2 separate regions of the Homo sapiens genome follow, and region 1 is linked to region 2. The links come from fine-mapping of genetic effects on gene expression. A gene starts in region 2. The other region holds a variant in brackets. All regions are shown on one strand. Distances are between the middles of the regions.

The links. PIP is the estimated chance that this variant, and not a neighbour inherited with it, causes the effect.
Region 1: its variant is fine-mapped to the expression of MADCAM1-AS1 in prefrontal cortex (BrainSeq, PIP 0.95). The same link has a PIP of 0.9 or more in putamen.

What each region holds. Positions count from the first base shown.
Region 1 is chr19:482,503-492,647 of GRCh38, forward strand. LOC124904608 (a long non-coding RNA gene) reads left to right here and starts at 6,664. Exons shown (of 2, transcript XR_007067072.1): 1 at 6,664-7,203; 2 at 7,364-7,568. It also overlaps a transcript of CIMAP1D not described here. RefSeq lists enhancers at 3,151-3,669, 6,975-7,476 and silencers at 6,304-6,933, 7,004-7,053. The variant A/G (reference allele first, on the strand shown) is at 6,004.
Region 2 is chr19:500,209-512,586 of GRCh38, forward strand. MADCAM1-AS1 (MADCAM1 antisense RNA 1) reads right to left here and starts at 7,681. Exons shown (of 3, transcript XR_936221.4): 1 at 7,168-7,681; 2 at 1,333-1,416. It overlaps MADCAM1 (mucosal vascular addressin cell adhesion molecule 1), which reads left to right. Exons shown (of 5, transcript NM_130760.3): 4 at 1,461-1,721; 5 at 4,537-5,135. The coding sequence ends at 4,757. TPGS1 (tubulin polyglutamylase complex subunit 1) reads left to right here and starts at 7,289. Exons shown (of 2, transcript NM_033513.3): 1 at 7,289-7,636. The coding sequence starts at 7,299. RefSeq lists enhancers at 6,365-7,222, 7,095-7,434, 10,272-10,571, 10,870-11,710, 11,711-12,378 and silencers at 6,435-6,564, 10,421-10,715.

The sequences.
Region 1 (10,145 bases), 19 kb before region 2:
AGAGAAGACCCTCAAATGTCAATGGTGTCAAGATGGGGAAATGCTGCCTTAGTGGATGGGCACTTATTAATCGCCTACTGCATACAGGGTGAGATCGGCAGGGCGTCCTTGGCATACAGCAGATTACTCATGCAGAACGGCTCTGCTGCCAGCTCTGTGCTCACAGGCGCCACCCCACGAGCTGTTCCATGCCTATCACCATGGACAGAGGCGGAGGTCACAAAGCCAGCAGGAGTGTGGACCTAGGACTCAAGTCCAGAATGTTCTTGGCCCTGCACTGTCCTGCCCACCTACACCTGCCAGTCTGAATGTCACCCACCCTGGCCGCCATCATACGAGCACCCCAGCCCCGCCCCTCGACGGGCACCGAGGCTATTCCCACTTCACCTCCTTTACAATTTCCTGCAGTGAACTTCCCAGGCAGACCTCCTGCGCCCATGAACCAGGGTTTCTGGATTAGACACTGTGTGGTCCCTGATGAATCACTGCACCACTGTGCATGTGTTTCCTCCTCTGAAAAACGGGCATATGTCAGCCTGACTCCACAGGGTCACTCTGAAGACAAGGGCATCTGGCCCCTTATCATTCAAACATCCTCTTCCAGCCTTCCCTCACTCCAGCAAATGGCACCTCCAGACCCATGCTGACTTGGATCCAAACCCCTGGGGCCGCTTCCTGGATCCAAAGCCCACTCAGCAGCTGACTGCTGCTCTCCACCTCACAGCCACGGCCCAGTCCAGGGCCCCATCCCCCCCCAACACCCACCCCCACCTCCTCAGGGATCCCTGGGACGCCTCTCCCAGCCCCAAAAGGCCACTCTATGTCAGCCAGAGCCAGCTCTTCAGACATGACCATGGGAAGCCCTACAGACGCCCATCCTGGCTGCCACTGCGTCTAGCACAGGCTCCTCCCCGACAGACCTCCACCTGCCTGAGTTCCCTCACCACTCCCCCAGGCATGCAGGCTCACCCTCGTTCCAGTGACACGGAGCTATGAGATCATGGTGGGCTGAAATCAACAGACCAGGGGTTCCCAACCCAGGTGATTGCCCCCAGGGGACGCTGGGCAGTGTCCAAGGACACCTGTGGTCGTCACGACTGGGGGAGCTCCTGGCATGGGGTGAGTGGGGGCAGGGATGCCGCTAGGCACCCTGCAGTGGCCGGGACCACCCCACCTGGGATGTCCACAGGGCCTGCGGAAGACCCTGCAGCAGAGAGCCATCAGCTCTTCCTCTCATGGGTCCCCGGAAGCTCTGGGATCAATCAATCCCCATGGGGCCGGCTCTGGGATCAACACTGTGTCCCCAGCTCCCCGGAAGCCCCTGCAGCCATCTTCCTTCCCTCTACCTGTCAGCCGCCATCCTGCCTGTAAAGCCAGGCCCCGCTTTGCCTCTTCTGTGCGGCACGGGAAGGGGACGGTGCACTCATGAGACCTCCCACCCTGCCTGTGAGATCAGTCCTGGTGTGGGTGACAGCTGTCCATCACTCACTTCTGTTGCTGGGCAACGTTCCATCCCATGAAGATGCCATGATTTACTCAGAGCTTCTAGGCTGCTTCTAGCTCGGAACAACCGCAAATAATGCTGTGAACACATGTCTCTCTTGTTTTATTTATTTTTTTCTTTTCTTTTCTTTTTCTTTTTTTTTTTTTTTTTTTGAGACAGAGTTTCACTCTTGTCACCAGGCTGCAGTGCAATGGCGCGATCTTGGCTCACCACAATCTCTGCCTCCCGGGCTCAAGCGATTCTGCTGCCTCAGCCTCCTGAGTAGCTGGGATTACAGGTGTGCGCCACCACGCCCGGCTAATTTTTGTATTTTTAGTAGAGACGGGGTTTCTCCATGTTGGTCAGGCTGGTCTCGAACTCCTGACCTCAGGTGATCCGCCCGCCTTGGCCTCCTAAAGTGCTGGGATTACAGGCATGAGCCACCGCGCCTGGCCTCTTGTTTTATTTTTGACACAGGGTCTCATTCTGTGCTCAGGCTGGAGTGTGCAGTGACGTGATCACAGAAAGGAAACCTCAGAGCAGAGTTGGGTCTTCACATACGGTGGCCAGGAAGGCCCCCTGAAGAGGTGAAACGTTAGCAAAGGCCTGGAGGAAGTCAGGACCTCTAAGGGATGCCCAGCTGTGCAGACATCTACGGGGTGTCTGGGGAGGGCACCGCTGTGCAAAGGCCCTGGGGCAGGACCGCACCTGGCGAGGCGGAGGAGCGAGGAGGAGGCCAGGGTGGCTGCCGCAGGGTGAGGAGGGGAGAGCAGGAGGAGGGAGGGCGGGGCTGACCCAGCAGGTCGTGAAGGGCCCTGAGGACACGGAGAGGACACAGGGTTTTACCCTGAGCAGGGTGGGAGCCACGGAGGCCTCTGCTGGAGCAGAGGAGGGCACGGCCTGAATTGGGTTTGAAGGAATCGACTGAGGGTAGGAAGGTGGGGGTAGGGAAGCCCGGGGGAGGCGAGCACACCAGCCCAGGTGGGCACCACGGGGCCTGGGCTGGGGGCTGCTGTGGGATGGTCAGGAGTGGGTGGGTTCTGGGCCTGTCTTGAAGGCAGAACTCACAAGATTTTCTGAGACGCTGTGGGGTGAAGGGGAGTGAGAGGAGGGGAGGGTCCTGGAAGGGCGGGTGCAACCTCAACCCAGCGGAGGACCCTGCTGACCTGCTTAGTTGTTTATGGAGGGTCATTGCCGTGCTCTACCACGTAACACACGTACACACACACACACAGGTGCACGTTTACACCACGTGGGTGCGCACGATGAGGCACACACAGGCAGGCGCGCACACACACGCGTGCTCACATAGGAACACGAAGAGGCAGGAGCCGGGCGTGCCCGAGCCCCGTGGCGCCCTGGGCATCCCAAACACCGCCTGCCCAGAACAGGTGCGCAGTGAGTGCCTGCTGAGCCAGTGAGTGGAATGAAGCTCTACAATAGTCCAGATGACAGACATGACTGCTGTGGCTGCTGCCGATCCAAGTCCCACCGTTCTTTTCTCTAGAGACAAGGTCTCACTCCACCATCCAGGCTGGCGCGATCACAGCTCACTGACGGTGGAGAAGGGTGATCAGAGAATGGTGGGAATGAGGCGGCCCTGACCTCCTGGGGTTAGCGATCCTCCCACCTCAGCCCCCTAAAGCACCGGGAGGGCAGGTGTGAGCCACGGTGCCAGCCCCAAGTTCCCGACATTCTTTCCTAAAACACATCCTCCGGCTGCAGATGAGGGTGCGACAGCTGGGAGGCAGCTCCCAGGAGGCCGGGTTCCTCCGATGACCTGCTGTTTCTGTGTCCCTGGCACACGGCACAGCAGGAGAGGGGGAGGCCAGGTGTTTGTGGCTGCTGCCACCGGCCCGTCCAGGGTCAGCTCATGCTCCCAGCCTCCGTGATCTGCCACTCCCCACTTCCCTGAGGCTGCTCACTGCTGTCCTTTGTCCGGCGGCCAGCCCCCTGACTCAGACTCACGCGCCCTGCTGCTGCCCGCCCCTTTGTTCCCGGGAGACTCTAACAAGGAAGGCTTGTTCTTCCCGCAAGGACACAGAGAACCTGCCAGCTCCCCTCCATCCTCATCCAGAGAGAGCCTGCTGTCCCCGTGGGACAGTGAGGACAGGACCAGCTCTCAGGCTCTGCTGGGCACCCAGCCCATGCCTGGCAAGTCCTCATGTTACAGACGAGGACACCGAAGCTCAGAGGAAGGAAGGGCTTGTATTCCGAGGATTTGGGGGGCTGGAGAGGGGTCCTAGTGGGCTCTGCTGTAGCCTGCAAGGTCCTACAAGCCCAGGTCCTTCCTGCCCTCTCTGGCTGCGTTGGTCCCTCCGGACTCAGCCTCTGCACTCACCGTACATTCTGCCTGATACACCCGGTCCAACTCCCTCCCCCTCCAGGAAGGCCTTGCTCAAATCTCTCCACCTCCAGGATCTTCCTTGGACCACTGATTGATTGATTGATTTTTTGTTTCTGTTGTTTTTCTGAGATGGAGTCTTGCTCTATCACCCAGGCTGGAGGGTAGTGGCGCAATCTCGGCTCACTGCAACCTCCGCCTGGTGGGTTCAGGCGATTCTCCTGCCTCAGCCTCCCAAGTAGCTGGGATTACAGGCGCCCGTCACCACACCCAGCTAATTTTTGTCTTTTTTAATAGAGATGGGGCCGGGAGCGGTGGCTCACGCCTGTAATCCCAGCACTTTGGGAGGCTGAGGCGAGCAGATCACGAGATCAGGAGATCGAGACCATCCTGGCTAATACAGTGAAACCCCGTCTCTACTAAAAATACAAAAAATTAGCCAGGCGTGGTGGCAGGCGCCTGTAGTCCCAGCTACACAGGAGGCTGAGGCAGAAGAATGACGTGAACCCGGGAGGCGGAGCTTGTAGTGAGCCGAGATTGTGCCAGTGCACTCCAGCCTGGGCGACAGAGCAAGACTCCATCTCAAAAAAAAGAAGGAAAGAAATAGAGATGGGGTTTCACCATGTTGGCCAGGCTGGTCTCAAACTCCTGACCTCAAGTGATCCGCCCACCTCAGCCTCCCAAAGTGCTGGGATTACAGGTGTGAACCGCCATGCCCGGCCTATCGGGACCACAGATTTGATCCTGCAACCTGCCTATCATCATGCTGCCTGCCCCCTTCCCTGCCTTTTCCTTCTTCCCAGCAGCACTCTCCACGCCTCACCTATTGCAGCGGCGGCTGGAGCTGCTCATGCCAGCTCCTGAGCCCACTGTGAAGTTCGCGGCGATCTGTGAGCTGGTTGGCTCATGTTGGCAGCCACGATGGGAGTATTTACAACACAGGGGGCGGCGTGCGCTGCAAGTGAGGGCCTTTTCCCTTGGAGAGCCAGCTGTTCAACATTTCTCCGCACAGCACCACTTCGGTATTATGCCCGAGGTTTATGGCATAACTAGCCTGGCTCATGGTCTCTCTTCCCTGCTGCTCACTAGAATGTAAGCTCCTTCGGGCCGAGGTCAGCCCACCTTGCACTCTGCTGTCTCCTTGGCACTTAAAACAACGCTTGGCATACAGCAGGCACTCAATAAAGATGTGCTGGCAGGGCGCATGACGTGTGCCTGTGGTCCCAACACTTTGGAAGGCCGAGGCGGGAGGATTGCTTGAGCTCAGGAGGCGGAGGTTGCAGTGAGTGGAGATCGCACCACTGCGCTCCAGCCTGGGCCACAGAGTGAGACCCTGTGTCAAAATAATAACAAGCATGAGGCAGGGGGGATCAGCTGAGGTCAGGAGTTCGAGACCAGCCTGGCCAACATGGTGAAACTCTATTAAGGGAGGAGACCATCCCTCATATTGTCTTATGCCCAATTTCTGCCTCCAAAGAAAGAAGTAAAAACTAAAAGGCAGAAATGAAATCCACAGGCAGACAGCCCGGCGCTGTGCCCTGGGCCTGGTAGTTAAAGAGCGACCCCTGACCTACTGGGTTACGTTATCTATAGATTCCAGACATTGTATGGAAAAGCACTGTGAAAACCCTTGTCCTGTTCTGTTCCGATCTGATTGCCGGTGCATGCAGCCCCCAGTCACGTACCCCCTGCTTGTTCAATCGATCACGACCCTCTCACGCGGACCCCCTGAGAGTTGTGAGCCCTGAAGAGGGACAGGAATTGCTCACTCGGGGAGCTCGGCTCTTGGGACAGGAGTCTTGCCGATGGCCCCGGCCGAATAAACCGCTTCCTTCTCTAACTGGGTGTCTGAGGAGTTTTGTCTGCGGCTCTTCCTGCTACACTATCTCTACTAAAAATACAAAAAAAAAAGGCCGGGCTTGGTGGCTGAAGCCTGTAATCCCAGCTCCTCGGGAGGCTGAGGCGGGCAGATCACGAGGTCAGGAGATCGAGACCATCCTGGCTAACACGGTGAAACCCCGTCTCTACTAAAAATACAAACAATTAGCCGGGCGTGGTGGCAGGCGCCTGTAGTCCCAGCTACTCGGGAGGCTGAGGCAGGAGAATGGCGTGAACCCGGGAGGCGGAGCTTGCGGTGAGCCGAGATGGCGCCACTGCACTCCAGCCTGGGCGACAG[A/G]GCGAGACTCCGTCTCAAAAAAATAACAAGTAAATCAGTGTGGAACTAACGAGCGCCCTCGTCCCTCGCGCTGCTGGGACTGACGTCCGGGTACCCCCAACGCAACCACGGCCTCCCGGTGACCCTGACCCGCGAAGCGGGCCGGAAGCCCCGCAGCCCCTACTCCAGAATCCGCGTCCCGGAACCTGGATCCCCGACCGGGCCCTGCGGCCCCGACCCCCGCAGCGAGCCCAGCGCCGGGGAACAGGACCCGGCTTCCCAGTCTCCGCCCGGGGACACCAGGCTCCTTGGGCGAACGGCCAGGCCTCCCGGGACCAGCGCGCTGGAAGACTCGCGGCGGGGACGCCCCCTCGGCCGCCCCGTGCCGGGCCCCACGCAAGGGCAGCCGGGGCGCCCCGCAGTGGGAACGCGAGGAGACCGACCACGGGGCGAGACAGCCGCCAGGGCGTCCGCGCCGCCCGCCCCAAGCCCGCATCAGCCCGCCACGAACTCGGAGGACCGCGGGCTAGAGCGGCCCCGCCAGCGCGCAAAGCCTTGTGGGCCACACGCCCCGGCGCCCCGCGCTCCGCGGCATGGCGGGAGTTGTGGTTCAGCTGCGGGGGCCGCGCGGGAGCTGCCGGGAGCTGTGGGCGGGGTGGGTGCGCGCGCAGTGGCAGGGCCAGTGAGCTGCACCCGCGGAAAAGGAGGGGGAGCGGCTGGTCAGCTGCGCCCTGCGGGTCGAGAATGTCATCAGCAGGGATGGCGGCGCTTTGAGTGCTGAGCGCGGCCCCGACCGGGACCCCCTACCCTTGACCCACCCTCGCAGGCCGAGCCCCGACTCCCGACCCGCCGTCGCAGCCCGCGGCCCCGACCTCTGACCCGCCCTCGCAGCCCGCGGCCCCGACCTCTGACCCGCCCTCCCAGCCAGACCCTCTACGCCCGACCCGCCCTCGCAGCCCATGGCCCATCGGCCCGGCAGTGGACGCAGAGCCTCGGCCCCGTTCCCTCCCCGGACCCCCCGGACCCGCTCTCCGTCCTCCCTGCAGAGCCGAGGGCCTTGGCCCAGCCCCGCATCCTCCCCGACCGTGCTCGATCCAGCCCGGGTGTGCTGCACCCGAAACAGGCTCCCGGGGGCCGTCGGGCCTGTGGGTGACCGTGCAGGCCAGGATCTCCCCCTTCCCAGTCGTGACAACCACAGATGGCCCCAGATGCCACGTTAGGGTTAGTGCCTCCTGGGGGCGGGATTGCGGCCGGGGGAGAACCACCCTCCCAACCCGTTAGGAACTGCAGGGACGGAGAGCGCGCTCGGGATGTCCAGCACTCAGCGCGGGTTGGGTGGCGAATGGAGAGCGAGTCGTCCTCAGAGGCCGCCGGCCTGCAGGCGAGAACCCTCCCAGCCAGGAGGCTGCGGCTCTGCCTGAACCCCGACCCAGGGCGAACACCCACATTTGGCCCCTGCCCGGTGCTGAGAGAGGCCAGAGCGGCGTCCCCAGAAGCGGAGCGGGAGCCCCACGTCCGGCGGCCACGATAGAAAGAAGAAAAGAAATGGGTGGTAGTAAGTAAAATAAATCGTATGAAACATAAAACAAGGCCGGGCGCGTTGGCTCACGCCTGTAATCCCAGCACTGTGGGAGGCCGAGGCAGGTGGATCACCTGAGGTCAGGAGTTTGAGACCAGCCTGGCCAACATGGCAAAACCTCGTCTCTACTAAAAATACAAAAATTAGCCGGGCGTGGTGGCGCATGCCTGTGGTCCCACCTACTTGGAAGGCCGTCACAGTAGAATCACTTGAACCCGTGAGGTGGAGGTTGCAGTGAGCCGAGATAGCACCACTGTACTCCAGCCTGGGCGACAAGAGTGAAACTCCAGCTAAAAAAAAAAGAAAGAAAGAAACGTAAAACAAAGATGTATCTTTATCTTATTTAATCCACTGTGTCCAAAATACTATCCTTTCGATTCATAAGCAATACATGTTGAGATGCTGTACACTCTTTGTTCACGCTGAGCGTTCAGAGCCCAGTGTGTATTTTGCACATTTGTGTCCACTTCCTAATTCTCACAGGAAATATTCAACCTGCACTTCAGGCCACTAAAGTTCTAGTTGGAAAAGTGGCTTCACAAACCCTAGCTGTTGCACATGTTTTCCAATAGCTGCGTCCGTTTCTAAGTTGATATTCGTGTTAGAAAGGAGGCTTCAGGGCCAGGCGCGGTGGCTGACACCTGTAATCCAGCACTTTGGGAGCCCAAGGTGGGCAGATCACTTGAGGTGGGGAGTTCAAGACCAGCCTGACCAACATGGGGAAACCCCGTCTCTATTAAAAATACAAAAATTGGCCAGGCGCGGTGGCTCACGCCTGTAATCCCAGCACCTTGGGAGGCCAAGGCGGGCGGATCACCTGAGGTCAGGCGTTTGAGACTAGCCTGACCAATATGGTGAAACCCTGTCTCTACTAAAAATGCAAAAGTTAGCTGGGCGTGGTGGCAGGCGCCTGTAGTCCCAGCTACTCCGGAGTCTGAGACAGAATTGCTTAAACCTGGGAGGCAGAGGTTGCAGTGAGCTGAGATCGTGCCACTGCACTCCAGCCTGGGTGACAGAGTGAGGCTTTGTCTCAAAAAAAAAAAAAAAGTCTACAAATACAAAACTTACCTGAGCATGGTGGCACGTGCCTATAATCCCAGCTACTCAGGAGGCTCAGGCGGGAGAATCGCTTGAACCCAGGAGGCGGAGGTTGCAGTGAGCCAAGATCTCACCACTGCACTCCAGCCTGGGCGACAGAGTGACTCCGTCTCAAAAAAAAAGAAGGCTTTTAAAGAAACAGTTTAGTGCCCTTTATGGTGTTTGCGACGTCGTGTAAACACCAGCTCTCTAGTCTCAAACCCGGCGAGGGCGGTTCATAGACAATTTCAGTCTCTCGACGCGACGCCGTGTGGCTTGTGCCCTTCTAGCCACCTAGACCCTCGGGAGAGGCCTGTGCGGCTCCTGGCTGGGCCCCCGTCTTCAAAGCAGCTTTTGAGTGGCCCTTTGACCCGTGAGACAGGGCCGTGGAAGCTGGGGTGAGCCTGGAGATGCCCCCGGGAGCACCAAGGCGTCAGAGCAGCTGACCAGGGCCCCAGGCCTCGCCGCTTCCCCAGGCAGAGCCGGCCCCAAGCCCCGCCTCTCCCCTGGGCGGAGCCAGCCCCAAGCCCCCCTCCCCTGGGCGGAGACAGCCCCAGGCCCCGCCTCTCCCCTGGGCGGAGCCAGCCCCAAGCCCCCCCTCCCCTGGGAGGAGACAGCCCCAGGCACCGCCTCTCTCCTGGGCGGAGCCAGCCCCAAGCCCCCCCCTCCCCTGGGCGGAGACAGCCCCAGGCACCGCCTCTCCCCTGGGCGGAGCCAGCCCCAAGCCCCCCCTCCCCTGGGAGGAGACAGCCCCAGGCACCGCCTCTCCCCTGGGCGGAGCCAGCCCCAAGCCCCCCCTCCCCTGGGAGGAGACAGCCCCAGGCACCGCCTCTCTCCTGGGCGGAGCCAGCCCCAAGCCCCCCCCTCCCCTGGGCGGAGACAGCCCCAGGCACCGCCTCTCCCCTGGGCGGAGCCAGCCCCAAGCCCCCCCTCCCCTGGGAGGAGACAGCCCCAGGCACCGCCTCTCCCCTGGGCGGAGCCAGCCCCAAGCCCCGCCTCTCCTCTGGGCGGAGCCAGCCCCAAGCCCCCCTCCCCTGGGCGGAGCCAGCCCCAGGCCCCGCCTCTCCCTGGGCGGAGCCAGCCCCAAGCCCCCCCTCCCCTGGGCGGAGCCAGCCCCAAGCCGGCTCTCACCATAGTGTGCCTCCTGCCCCATGGACCCCCATCCCCCCAGACCCCTCCTGATTAGCTCAGGTGGGGCTGCCGTGGAGACCACACCAGCATCATCGCCTGAGGCTCCATGTCCAATTTCCCCGGGGCTGCTGGAGACTGAGCACTGCCCCAGCCCCTCACCAGGCGGTCACTGACCCCAGGGAGGCCTGTCAGCTCTGCCCAGGCTCAGCGACGTGGTCAGCTCGGCCAGCCTGCGGGGAGGGACTCGACTCGGACAAGGGTTCCTTCAGGGACCTGTGCCAGGTGGGCCACGAAGATCCTTCCTTCCTCCTTTTTTTTTTTTTTTTTTTTTTTTTTTGAGACAGTCTTGCTCTGTCGCCCAGGCTGGAGTGCAATG
Region 2 (12,378 bases):
TCAGGGCAGCCCAAAGAGGTGACTCTCACCCCTTTGACAGTTGAGGAAACTGAGGCACGTGGAGATTAAGGAGGCTGCTGGGGTGATGTTGCCAGTGAGTGGGGGACCTGGAATGCCCGGACTCCCATCCTGCCCACTGTGGTGCCTCAGCTTCCTCATCTGTCCAGTGGACTTCCCTGACTGTGGGTCCTTTGTAAATTTCAGGGACCATGTGGATTTCAAAGCACTTTATAAATTATAGGCTTTAGGCCGGGCTCACGCCTGTAATCCCAGCACTTTGGGAGGCTGAGGTGGGTGGATTACCTGAGGTCAGGAGTTCAAGACCAGCCTGGCCAACATAGTGAAACCCCATCTCTATTAAAAATACAAAAATTAGATGTGGCCAGGTGCGGTGGCTCATGCTTGTAATCCCAGCACTTTGGGAAGCTGAGGTGGGTGGATCACGAGATTAGGAGATCGAGACTAGCCTGACCAACATGGTGAAACCCCGTCCCCTACTAAAAATACAAATATTAGCCTGGCGTGGTGGTGAGCGCCTGTAATTCCAGCTACTCAGGAGGCTGAGGCGGGAGAATCGCTTGAACCCGGGAGGCGGAGGTTGCAGTGAGCCGAGATCGCACCATTGCACTCCAGCCTGGGCAACAGAACGAGACTCCATCTCAACAACAACAACAAATTCTAGGCTTTATCAACTAGAACAGTAAGCCGAATAGAAACAAAAATGTAGGCCAGCCATGGGAGGCTGAGGCGGGAGGATCACTTGAGTACAGGAGTTCCAGACCAGCTTGGGCAACATACGAGACCTCCCATCTCTACAAAAAAATTTAAAAATTAGCTGGGCGTGGTATTGCACACCTGTGGTCCCAGCTACTCAGGAGGCTGAGTGGGGAGGATGGCTTCAGCCTGGGAGGTTGAGGCTGCAGTGATCCATGATCACAACACTGCACTCCAGCCTGCACGACAGAGTGAGACCCCATCTCTAAAAAAAAAAACCAGGCCGGGCGTGGTGGCTCACGCCTGTAATCCCAGCACTTTGGGAGGCCGAGGTGGGTAGATCACCTGAGGTTGGGAGTTCAAGGCCAGCCTGACCAACATGGAGAAACCCCATCTCTACTAAAAATACAAAATTAGCCAGGTGTGGTGGCAAGCGCCTGTGATCCCAGCTACTCCAGAGGCTGAGGCAGGGGAATCGCTTGAACCTGAGGAGCGGAGGTTGTGGTGAGCCAAGATTGCGCCACTGCACTCCAGCCTGGGTAACAAGAGCAAAACTCTGTCTCAAAAAAAAAAAAAAAAAAAAAAAAAAAAAAAAGAATAAATGGAAATGTGACTCACCAGAGTGGTCCAGGGAAGGGGCTTGGAGGGGTTCTGGTCCAAGCCCTTCATCCAGATGCGGAGATTGAGGCAGGAGAGGCAAGCCTGGGGCAGCAGAGAGGAAAAAAAAACCCTCACTCTGTTTCCAGTCCTGCACAGCCCGACCTCCCCGGAGCCTCCCGACACCACCTCCCCGGAGTCTCCCGACACCACCTCCCCGGAGTCTCCCGACACCACCTCCCAGGAGCCTCCCGACACCACCTCCCCGGAGCCTCCCGACAAGACCTCCCCGGAGCCCGCCCCCCAGCAGGGCTCCACACACACCCCCAGGAGCCCAGGCTCCACCAGGACTCGCCGCCCTGAGATCTCCCAGGCTGGGCCCACGCAGGGAGAAGTGATCCCAACAGGCTGTGAGTTCTGGTCCCTGGGGGCAGGGAGGGTGGGAAGGGCTGAGAGCGAGAGGTTCCTTGGATGAAGACTTTAGACAAGAAATTGCCCTGCCCAGCCTTGGTTTCCCCGTCTGCCCAGCCTCAGTTTCCCCGTCTGCCCAGCCTCGGTTTCCCCATCTGCCCAGCCTCGGTTTCCCCGTCTTTCCAGCCTCGGTTTCCCCATCTGCCCAGCCTCAGTTTCCTTGTCTGTCCAGTGGGCTTCTCTTAACTGTGGGTCCTTTTTGTAAACATCAGGGACTGTGTAGATGTCAAGGCACTTGGTAAATTCTAAGCCTTGTAGACTAGAAGAATCTTTGGAATAGAAGCAGAAACAATGCGGCCACATAGGTAATTTCTTTCCTTTTTTTTTGTGAGACAGAGTCTCGCTCTGTCCCCCAGGCTGGAGTGCAGTGGTGCAACCTCGACTCATTGCAACCTCCGCCTCCTGGGTTCAAGCGATTCTCCTGCCTCAGCCTCCTGAGTTGCTGGGATTACAGGCACCCATCACCACTCCCGGCTAATTTTTGTATTTTTAGTAGAGATGCGGTTTCACCATGTTGACCACGCTGGTCTCCAACTCCTGACCTGAGGTGATCTGCCCGCCTCGGCCTCCCAAAGTGCTGGGATTACAGGTGTGAGCCACTGCACCCGGCCCACATAGGTAATGTTAGAAATGCTTGTCCCCCAGTGCCACAAAGAAATAGCACTCAAACAAATTTAATTCTCTCAGCAAGGCCACTTTTACTTTCTGCAGAAAGGGTGCTCATTGTAGACGGAACAATGGCGAGAGCACAGCTGAACAAAGGAAAAGCAGACATATTTATCCCTCACACATTTGGGTCGCCCTTACTGCTGTGTCCTGCATCCACTGGCTGGAGCAGGATATCACACTCTTAAACTGATACCCAGTTTGCTAACAACCTAAAACTTTCCTAAGTAGGTAAGCGCAAAGGAGGACAAACAAGGAGAGGAAGTTGCTTACGAAAGATTTGAGGAAGCAGTAACATTTCCAAATAAGGAAGGGGCATAAGCTATGAGCTAAGACTTCCCTGGGACTCTCCAGATATGCCTGGGTAAGCCCAAGCAACTAACTGGGCTAAAGTGTAAGAACTAATAGCTGATAGGAGGCTTTAGAGTAAGAAGCTATTATTTCTAGTGTCTATGTCTATTATTTTATTTGTAAATCAAGACGAGCTTTGAAGAGGAACTTTTCTACTTCCTACAGGTAATTTCAAATTTAAAAGTAAAGGCAAGGCATGAACCCGGGAGGTAGAGCTTGCAGTGAGCCGAGATCGCGCCACTGCACTCCAGCCTGGGGCACAGAGCGAGACTCCATCTCAAAAAAAAAAATGGGCCGGGCACGGTGGCTTATGCCTGTAATCCCTGCACTTTGGGAGGCCAAGGCGGGCGGATCACGAGGTCAGGAGATCGAGACCATCCTGGCTAACACGGTGAAACCCCGTCTCCACTAAAAATACAAAAAATTAGCCGGGCGTGGCAGCGGGCGCCTGTAGTCCCAGCTACTCGGGAGGCTGAGGCAGGAGAATGGCGTGAACCTGGGAGGCGGAGCCTGCAGTGAGCCGAGATCGCGCCACTGCACTCCAACCTGGGAGACAGCAAGACTCCGTCTCAAAAAAAAAAAAAAAATTAAAAGTAAAAATAATGTGGTCGGGCCAAGCATGGTAGCTCATGCCTGTAATGCCAGCACTTTGGGAGGCCGAGGCAGGAGGATCACTTGAGCCCAGGAGGTTGAGGCTGCAGTGAGCTGAGATCACACCTGGGTGACAGAGCAAGACTCAGTCTCAAAAAAAAAAGTGTTGGCCAGACACGGTGGCTCATGCCTATAATCCTAGCACTTTGGGAGGCCAAGGAGGAGGATCACCTGAGGTCAGGAGTTCGAGACCAGCCTGGCCAACATGGTGAAACCTCATCTCTACTAAAAATACAAAAATTAGCCAGGTGTGGTGGCATGTGCCTGTAATCCCAGCTGAGGATTACTCGGGAGGCTGAAGCAGGAGAATCACTTGAACCCGGGAGGCGGAAGTGGCAGTGAGCTAAGATCACGCCATTGCACTCCAGCCTGGGGGACAGAGCAAGATTCCATTTCGAAAAAAAAAAAAAAGTGTGGTCATACATTTCGCAGAGCCCAATATATCCCAAGCATTATCATTTCAACAGGTAATCAATATAAAATAGTATGAAGGAGATATATTACATTCCTCCCTTTTCCCCAGACTAAGTCTTCAAAGTGCAGATTGTAGGCTCAGCACCCTTCATGGTGGTGAGCCGTCCTCTCTCCGGTCTGCCCTTTTTTTTTTTTTTTTTTTTTTTTGAGAGACAGAGTCTCATTCTGTCACCCAGGCTGGAGTGCAGTGGTGCGATCTCAGCTTACTGCAACCTCCACCTCCCGGGTTCAAGTGATTCTCCTGCCTCAGCCTCCCAAGTAGCTGGGATTACAGGCGCCTGCCACCATGTCCAGCTAACTTTGTATTTTTAGTAGGCACAGGGTTTCACCATGGTCAGGCTGGTCTCGAACTCCTGACCTCGTGATCCACCCGCTTTGGCCTCCCGAAGTGCTGGGATTTCAGGCGTGAGCCACCCCGCCTGGCCTGGACTGCCCATTTCTAAACTCTAAGGTGCTATGCGCATTTCAAAAGGGTCATGGTAAAGTCCTTTGTGAAATTTCAGGGAACGTGGTAACTTTGGAAGCACGTGTAGCCTCTGAGGGGCTCCTCCCTTCCCAAGCCTGCAGAGGCCTGGAGGGCTCTGACCGGGGTCTCCTGCACTCTCTCCCCAGCGTCCAAACCTGCGGGTGACCAGCTGCCCGCGGCTCTGTGGACCAGCAGTGCGGTGCTGGGACTGCTGCTCCTGGCCTTGCCCACCTATCACCTCTGGAAACGCTGCCGGCACCTGGCTGAGGACGACACCCACCCACCAGCTTCTCTGAGGCTTCTGCCCCAGGTGTCGGCCTGGGCTGGGTTAAGGGGGACCGGCCAGGTCGGGATCAGCCCCTCCTGAGTGGCCAGCCTTTCCCCCTGTGAAAGCAAAATAGCTTGGACCCCTTCAAGTTGAGAACTGGTCAGGGCAAACCTGCCTCCCATTCTACTCAAAGTCATCCCTCTGTTCACAGAGATGGATGCATGTTCTGATTGCCTCTTTGGAGAAGCTCATCAGAAACTCAAAAGAAGGCCACTGTTTGTCTCACCTACCCATGACCTGAAGCCCCTCCCTGAGTGGTCCCCACCTTTCTGGACGGAACCACGTACTTTTTACATACATTGATTCATGTCTCACGTCTCCCTAAAAATGCGTAAGACCAAGCTGTGCCCTGACCACCCTGGGCCCCTGTCGTCAGGACCTCCTGAGGCTTTGGCAAATAAACCTCCTAAAATGATACAAACGTGTCAGTTTTCTCAGTTGACACCCACTCCGTGGAGAGGAGAGGTCTGAGGGCTCCGGACAGCAGAGGGTTGACTGTGGGTCCTGCCCTGATGGCTCCATCTCCCTCATCCCACAGTCCGGGGCTGGAGAAGAAAGTGTTAGAAATGCTTGTTCCCCGGTGCCGTAAAGAAATAGCACTTGAATATAAATGTCATTTCCTCAGCAAGGCCACTGTTTTACTTTCTGCAGAAAGGGTACACTGGCCAGCAGTTTTGCCACGAGAGTATCCAGAACAAAGGAGACAGGGTCATTTATAACCTGACGCGTCCACCCTACTGCTCTGTCCGGTTTCCATTGGCTGGAACGGGACGGTTTCCATTGGCTGGAACGGGACCTCACATTCTGTATTTATCCCGATCGGCTAGCAGCTTGGAACTTTTAAAAAGAGGCAAAGGCAGAGGAGAACAAAGGAAGGAAGAAGTAGCTTGTGGAATGCTAAGAAAGGTAAAAACACCTTCAAATAAGGAAGAGGAACAGGTTATGACCTAATGCTTGCTTGGACCAGTATAAGCATGCCAGGGCAGATATTTAGCCTACATTGTGGGCACTAAGAACATAAAGTATGTTGATTTCCTTATTACATTATATATATTCAATATAACATTAACAATTAATTAACAAAGAATGTTAGCACAGGTCTTTTGTTTGTTTGTTTTTTGAGACAGAGTCTCGCTCTGTCGCCCAGGCTGGAGTGCAGTGGCGCGATCTCGGCTCACTTGCAAGCTCCGCCTCCCGGGTTCACGCCATTCTCCTGCCTCAGCCTCCCGAGTAGCTGGGACTACAGGCGCCCGCCACCACGCCTGGCTAATTTTTTGTATTTTTAGTAGAGACGGGGTTTCACCGTGTTAGCCGGGATGGTCTCGATCTCCTGACCTCGTGATCCGCCCGCCTCGGCCTCCCAAAGTGCTGGGATGACAGGCGTGAGCCACCGCGCCCGGCCTACCACAGGCCTTTGAATACATTTTGCTTCTAAGAGAAGTTACTATTTATTCCTAATTAGATGGGGAGGAAAGTCTCATTTGAAGAGGAACCTCTACTTCACGTTTTACAAAGGGCATTTGGTCTGCCCGCCAGAGATTCCTGTGCTGGGAGGATGGTGGAACGGTCCCCCGGCAAACAGCTCTCATTGCCCCCTGCCCGGGGCAACGCCCCTGAGGGACGGGGACGGCACCCAGCAAGCTCTGCCCGGGGCGGGGAAACGCGAGGGCTTAGTGGTTTCCTCGGTGAGAAGCTTAACCAGGAGTCCCCGAAAGCAGTGAGGGAAGATCCACAGAGGTCGCCTGGGGAAACACACCCAGAGGCGGCTTATGGAGGAGACTGCTTGTGTTTTGAGGTGGCTGCGGGCTGCGGAGGGTTGGGAGGGCCGGGAGGGCGGCCGGAAGCGAGGTCAGGCGATGAAGGCCTGGAGGTGCCAGCCCGGGGGCCCTGGAGAGCCATGGCAGAGTTTACAGCTCTGGAGGCTGCGGTGTCAGAAAGCTCCCTCTGGCGGTCAGGGGGTAACAGCGCGGGATGCTCGCCCGTGTGGCCGCCAATAGGGGCTCAGCGCAGCTGCAGCGGAGCTGGGGAGGGGGCTTCTCCCACGAGGTGAGCTACGCACTCAGACGTTGACTGAGTTAGGCGGAAGGCCAGGCTGAGCTCGACCCCCAGCACCAAGGCTCAGAGATGAACATGAGAAAAGGGTCTGGGGGCCGGGCGCGGGGCTGGGTCCAGCAGTCCTGGGCAGGTCCAGCCCCGCGCATGCTCCGTCAGGCTTCTCTGCTAACCAGGGAGACTGGTTGCTAGGAGACCATGCTAATGAAGGACTCGCTCACTACCCAAATGGCAAGCAATCCGGCTTTGTGCCAGAAACGAAGCACTTCCGAGGCAGCCATTTTGGAGTCTGGCAAAATTCAGGACCGAGGCCAAAGCCAGGAGAGCCAATCAATATACACAAAGAGGGAGGAGAAGAGAGAGTGCCAATAAGGACACAAGGAAAGTGGTAGCGTACCCTTGTCACTTCCCAAAGTCTCCCAGCGGGATACCGGTGCCCTCTGCCCTTAATCAAGATGGCCGCCTTGGGGGGGCTCTAGCGCACAGTGGAATATGGCGGTGCTTCCGGTCCCGCTGCCCTCAGCGAAGATGGCGGCAGTGGAGAAGCGGCGGCAAGCGGTACCACCGCCGGCCGGTTTCACGGACAGCGGCCGCCAGTCGGTATCCCGGGCGGCGGGGGCGGCCGAGAGCGAGGAGGACTTCCTGCGGCAGGTCGGCGTGACGGAAATGCTACGTGCGGCCCTGCTGAAGGTGCTGGAGGCGCGGCCCGAGGAGCCGATCGCCTTCCTGGCTCACTACTTCGAGAACATGGGCCTGCGCTCGCCTGTAAACGGCGGCGCCGGGGAGCCCCCGGGCCAGCTCCTGCTGCAGCAGCAGCGCCTGGGCCGCGCGCTATGGCACCTTCGCCTGGCCCACCACTCCCAGAGGTGCGCAGTGGGCCGGCTTGGGCGGGTGGGGCAGCGATGGACTTCAACTCCCAGCATGCCGCGCGCGGCTCCCTACCCGCAGCGCCGGCGCAGGGGCCCGGGGCTTGCTGGGAGTTGTAGTGCGCGATGCCTTCTTGGGTGGGATGGATCGGACAAGGTGGGCTGGAGGGTCCGGGCTTCGGTCCGGCGCTAGGCAGCGCGCTGCATGCGGCGCGAGTCCTTCTGGCCGGCTTCGCCTTCTGTGATGCCTTTTTGCAGGTGCTGAGTTTCCCCTTGCAGTTCATGATTTTCAAAATCGTGCAGCTCAAGAGGACTTGGCCCGAGGTCGCAGAGCCAGCCCCCGAGCCAGGTCCTCCTAGTCGCCTCCTTAGCAGCCTCATGTTATCCCCGTCCATTCAGCCAGAACGTGAATATTTACAGAGAGCAGCGCAGTCACCCAGGGCCCCCATCTTAGGGGACAGGCTCCCAGCGGGCAGGTGGGGATTCCTGGAAGAGCCTGGCGATGTGCGGGCGGGTTGCAGGGAAGAGGCCCAGCAGGTGCAAATTTAGACCCCGAGTGTGGGGCACACGGGAGGCGGGAAAGCCACGGAATTTGGCTGAAGCATGCGAGGCTGCAGGTGCCTACGCGCGGTGTCCCCTGGCTGGGGCCAGTTCTGAGCCCAGGGAAGGTGGTTGGGGACTATCTGTTGGCGTTGGGGATGGATGGGCTGATGTCTTTTGTTGGGGGGGGGGTCCCCAGAAGCGGAGCCTGAGGTAGGCATTGTGTGTGCAGGTGATTTTACAAGGGGGTGCGCCCAAGAGAACCCAGGAAGGGGGTGGGAAGAGCAGGCAGGGAAGGATGCCAAGCAAAGGTGCCCTTTCAGCCTCATAACCAGGGCATAAGCGCCCACCATGGCAGCCCTCGCCAGAGTCCCAGAGAAGTTCGGGGGGAGAAGAGAGATGGGGAGTGTCCCCCCTACCACGTTCAGGGTGCACAGGTGTCCAAGATCATACTCAGATAAGGGTGGCAGGGTGTTGGGTACCTGGACAAGGAGCAGACTTGCTCCGGTGGCCCAGTGGCTCTGAAGGCCCCGCCCGATGATTTGCTGGAGCCAGGTGGGAGGGGAGCGGGCAAGGGCAGGCCCAGAGGGTCAGTGGAGCCGTTTACTGCGATGGAAGGCCCCTGGTTTGAAGAAGCTGCCAGAGCCACTTGCGGATTAAGTTGGAGGCTGGGAGGAGCCTGGAGACAGGAAGGTAGAAAGAAGCGTCTGCAACTGACGTGGGGCCAGGACAGAAGACTGAACTGGAGGGGTCCTGAAGTCTTCAGGAGAGATGAGAAGAGCTCAGGACCCCACTCTGAGGGCACCTAGCCCAGAGAGCCCACCAGAGAGGGTGAGAACGTGAGACCAGAGGTGAACGGGGAGCAGGAGGAAGATGGCCTCCCAGGACATCCGGAAGAGAATCTCCCAAGGAGGAAAAGGGGTCAACAGCAGGCCCACCACGTATGGTTGTTCAGGTTGAGCACTGCACAAGCCACTCACCCCGTAGACACTGCAGATGAGGATATTTATATTTATATTAATTTCCGAGGGCTGCTGGAACAAATTACCTCCAACTTAGTGGCTTAAAACAACAGAAATTTATTCTCTCACAGTTCTGGAGGGCAGAAGTCTGAAATCGGAGTGTCAGGAGGACCACACTCCCTCTGGAGGCTCCAGGGAAGGAGCCTTCCTTGCCTCCCCAGCCTCCAGTGGCGGCCAGCAGTCTTTGGCTTGTGGCCACATTGCTGCAGTCTCTGCCTCCGTCGTCACGTGGCCTCCTGTGTGTCTCTGTTCTGTGTTCCCTCATAAGGACACCACTAGGCCCCACCCTACTCCAGTGTGACCTCAACCGCCTACATCTGCAAAGCTGCTGTCTCAAATAAGCTCTCAGTCTGAGGTTCTGGATGGGCGTGAGTTTGGTGGGCACCAGTCACCCCAGGACAGGAGTGGAGCCATTGGCTGGAAGAGTTCTCATAGCAGGGACTCAGGGCAAGGGTGGTGCTGGTGGCAGATGCATCCCGGCCCTGGGCTCGCCTGGGCTCCCCAGAGACACAGCCAGTGGGGAATGCAGAAGACAGGTGCACAGACCTGCGTGGCATCTGATTCTGTGCTCATGGAGCCAGGCCTGCTCCCGTCCTCCCAGCAGGCAGCTCCGGCCGCCCCTCCATCCTTGGACCGTCAGGAACCCCTGAGGTCACCTGACCAGTCAGGAAGAGAAGCCCAGAGCAGCCGGGCGCGGTGGCTCACGCCTGTCATCCCAGCACTTTGGGAGGCCGAGGCGGGCGGATCACAAGGTCAGGAGATCGAGACCATCCTGGCTAACACGGTGAAACCCCGTCTCTACTAAAAATACAAAAAATTAGCCGGGTGTGGTGGCGGGCGCCTGTAGTCCCAGCTACTCGGGAGGCTGAGGCAGGAGAATGGCATGAACCCAGGAGGCGGAGCTTGCATTGAGCCGAGATCGCGCCACTGCACTCCAGCCTGGGCGACAGAGCGAGACTCTGTCTCAAAAAAAAAAAAAGAGAAGCTCAGAGCCTGGCAGATTTGTCCCCACTCAGTCCAGTGTGTTGACCCCCAAAGGCTGAGGGGCTGACTGGGGCTGCTCCTGAGAGCATCACCGTGGTAGGCTGGGGGAGAAGTCACCCCAGATCCTCCCTGGCACCTTCTTTTGAGAAATGGCAAGCTCCGGCCGCCAGGGCTGGTGATGGCAGCCACAGTGTCCCCCTCCTGCCACCTTCCTGGTCGTCTCCAAGGCCCCCTGGAGCACACACACAGACGTTACATGACTTGCTGAAGGCCACACGGCCACCGAGGGCAGAGCTGGGGTCAGAGAGCCCCAGAGTGCAGCCCCGGAGGCCTCCTCAGCCACCACGTTGCTCATCCTGGCAGCAAGGGCTGCACTGCCCCCTGCAGGTCACTGCCAGGAAAACGTGCACGAAAACGAAGCCCCAGCTGATCTGGGCCAGGGTTCCCCCGACTCGTCCTCTGGGGGCCGTCCTGGGTACTGCAGGGCCCTGAGCAGCGTCCCTGGCCTCCACCCACTCCTTGCCAGGAGCTCCCCGAGTCGTGACAACCACAGATGTCCCAGACACCGCCCGGCGTCTGCTGGGGGCAGGAGTGGGAAGCAGAAGTCTAAGGTGTAGGGTGGCTCCTGTCTCTTTCTGGAGACGTTCCATAAATAGAATCTTTCCTGTATTAACAAATGCTCACACGCCTTACAAACCGCTCTGTGTAGGAGCCGACACAGACGGAGCCCTGGCTGGGCTCCCGCTTTCCATTTTGCAATCAGGGAAACCAAGGCCCAGAGGCCACCGTCACAGGCAGAGCTGACGTTCCAGCCCCGGCCTCCTCCTCCGAGCCCAGAGCTTGCTGCCTTCCTCTTCCTCCTCCTCCCTCACCCGATGATTCTGCTGGGAGCCGCCCGGGAGCCCAGGAGGGGCGGGTATGCGGCCGCCTTGAAGTGGGCTGTCACCTTCCTGTCTCCTGCCGTCATCATGGCTGTGATCTCACCAGGCTGTAATTACCTCTTTGTGTGTCTTCCTGCCCCTCAAGGCAGCTGTGGCTGAGCTGCAGCCCTAATTACAGCCCAAAATAAGCAGGTGGGGCCTCCCACACGTATGCCAGCTGCTGTCCTGAGCACCTGGCTCCAGCCCCGTTCTCCCGTCCTCACAAGAACCCCCACTCCGTAGATGCACAAGGCCAGGTGCAGAAAAGGAGAGTGCACACAGCTGGGAGGGGCAGACGAACACCCGAGGCAGGCCTGGGCCAGGCACAGAGCCCTGCACACCGAGGGGCCGCGTGGATGCTTGCGGAGCTGGACCAGGGCTGCCGCCCCCAGAGAGGAGAGCATTTATGCAGAAGTGGTGGTGGATGGCGCTGGGTAATCCCGGCCCACAGACCTGTCAGTCAGAAGCTGCGAGCACGACAGGAACCAACAACCCCAAACCTCAGTGGCTTCAACACAAGCAAAACTCTTCTCGCTTACTCTGCAGGGGACGTCCAGTTGTTTTTTTGTTGTTTTTTTTGAGATGGAGTCTGGTTCTGTCACCCAGGCTGGAGTGCAGTGGCGCGATCTCGGCTCACTACAAGTTCCGCCTCCTGGGTTGACGCCATTCTCCTGCCTCAGCCTCCCGAGTAGCTGGGACTACAGGCGCCCCCACCACACCCGGCTAATTTTTGTATTTTTAGTAGAGACGGGGTTTCACCATGTTGGCCAGGCTGGTCTTGAACTCCTGACCTCAAGTGATCCACCCGCCTCGGCCTCCCAAAGTGCTGGGATTACAGGCATAAGCCACTGTGCCTGGCCCAGTTTTCTTTTTGAGCCAGGGTCTTGCTGTCACGCAGCCTGCAGTGCAGTGGTGCAATCCCAGCTCACTGCAGCCTCGACCGCCTGGGCTCAAGGGATCCTCCCACCTCAGCCTCCCAAGTACCCGGGACCACAGACGCACGTCACCACACCTGGCTGATTTTTAAATTTTTGTAGAGACAGGATCTCACTATGTTGCCCAGGCTGGTTTCGAACTCCTGGACTCAAGCAATCCTCCTGCCTCGGCCTCCCAAAGTGCTGGGCTCACAGGCAGGAGCCACGGCACCCCCACCCACCCCCCACCAAGGGCTTGTCTGATCTTGACACGCACCTGCAATCATGACCACAGAGAAGTGGACTGAGAAGTAGCACGATGGCTCTTAACATTCCCGCTGAAAGTGGGCCACGCCCCCTCG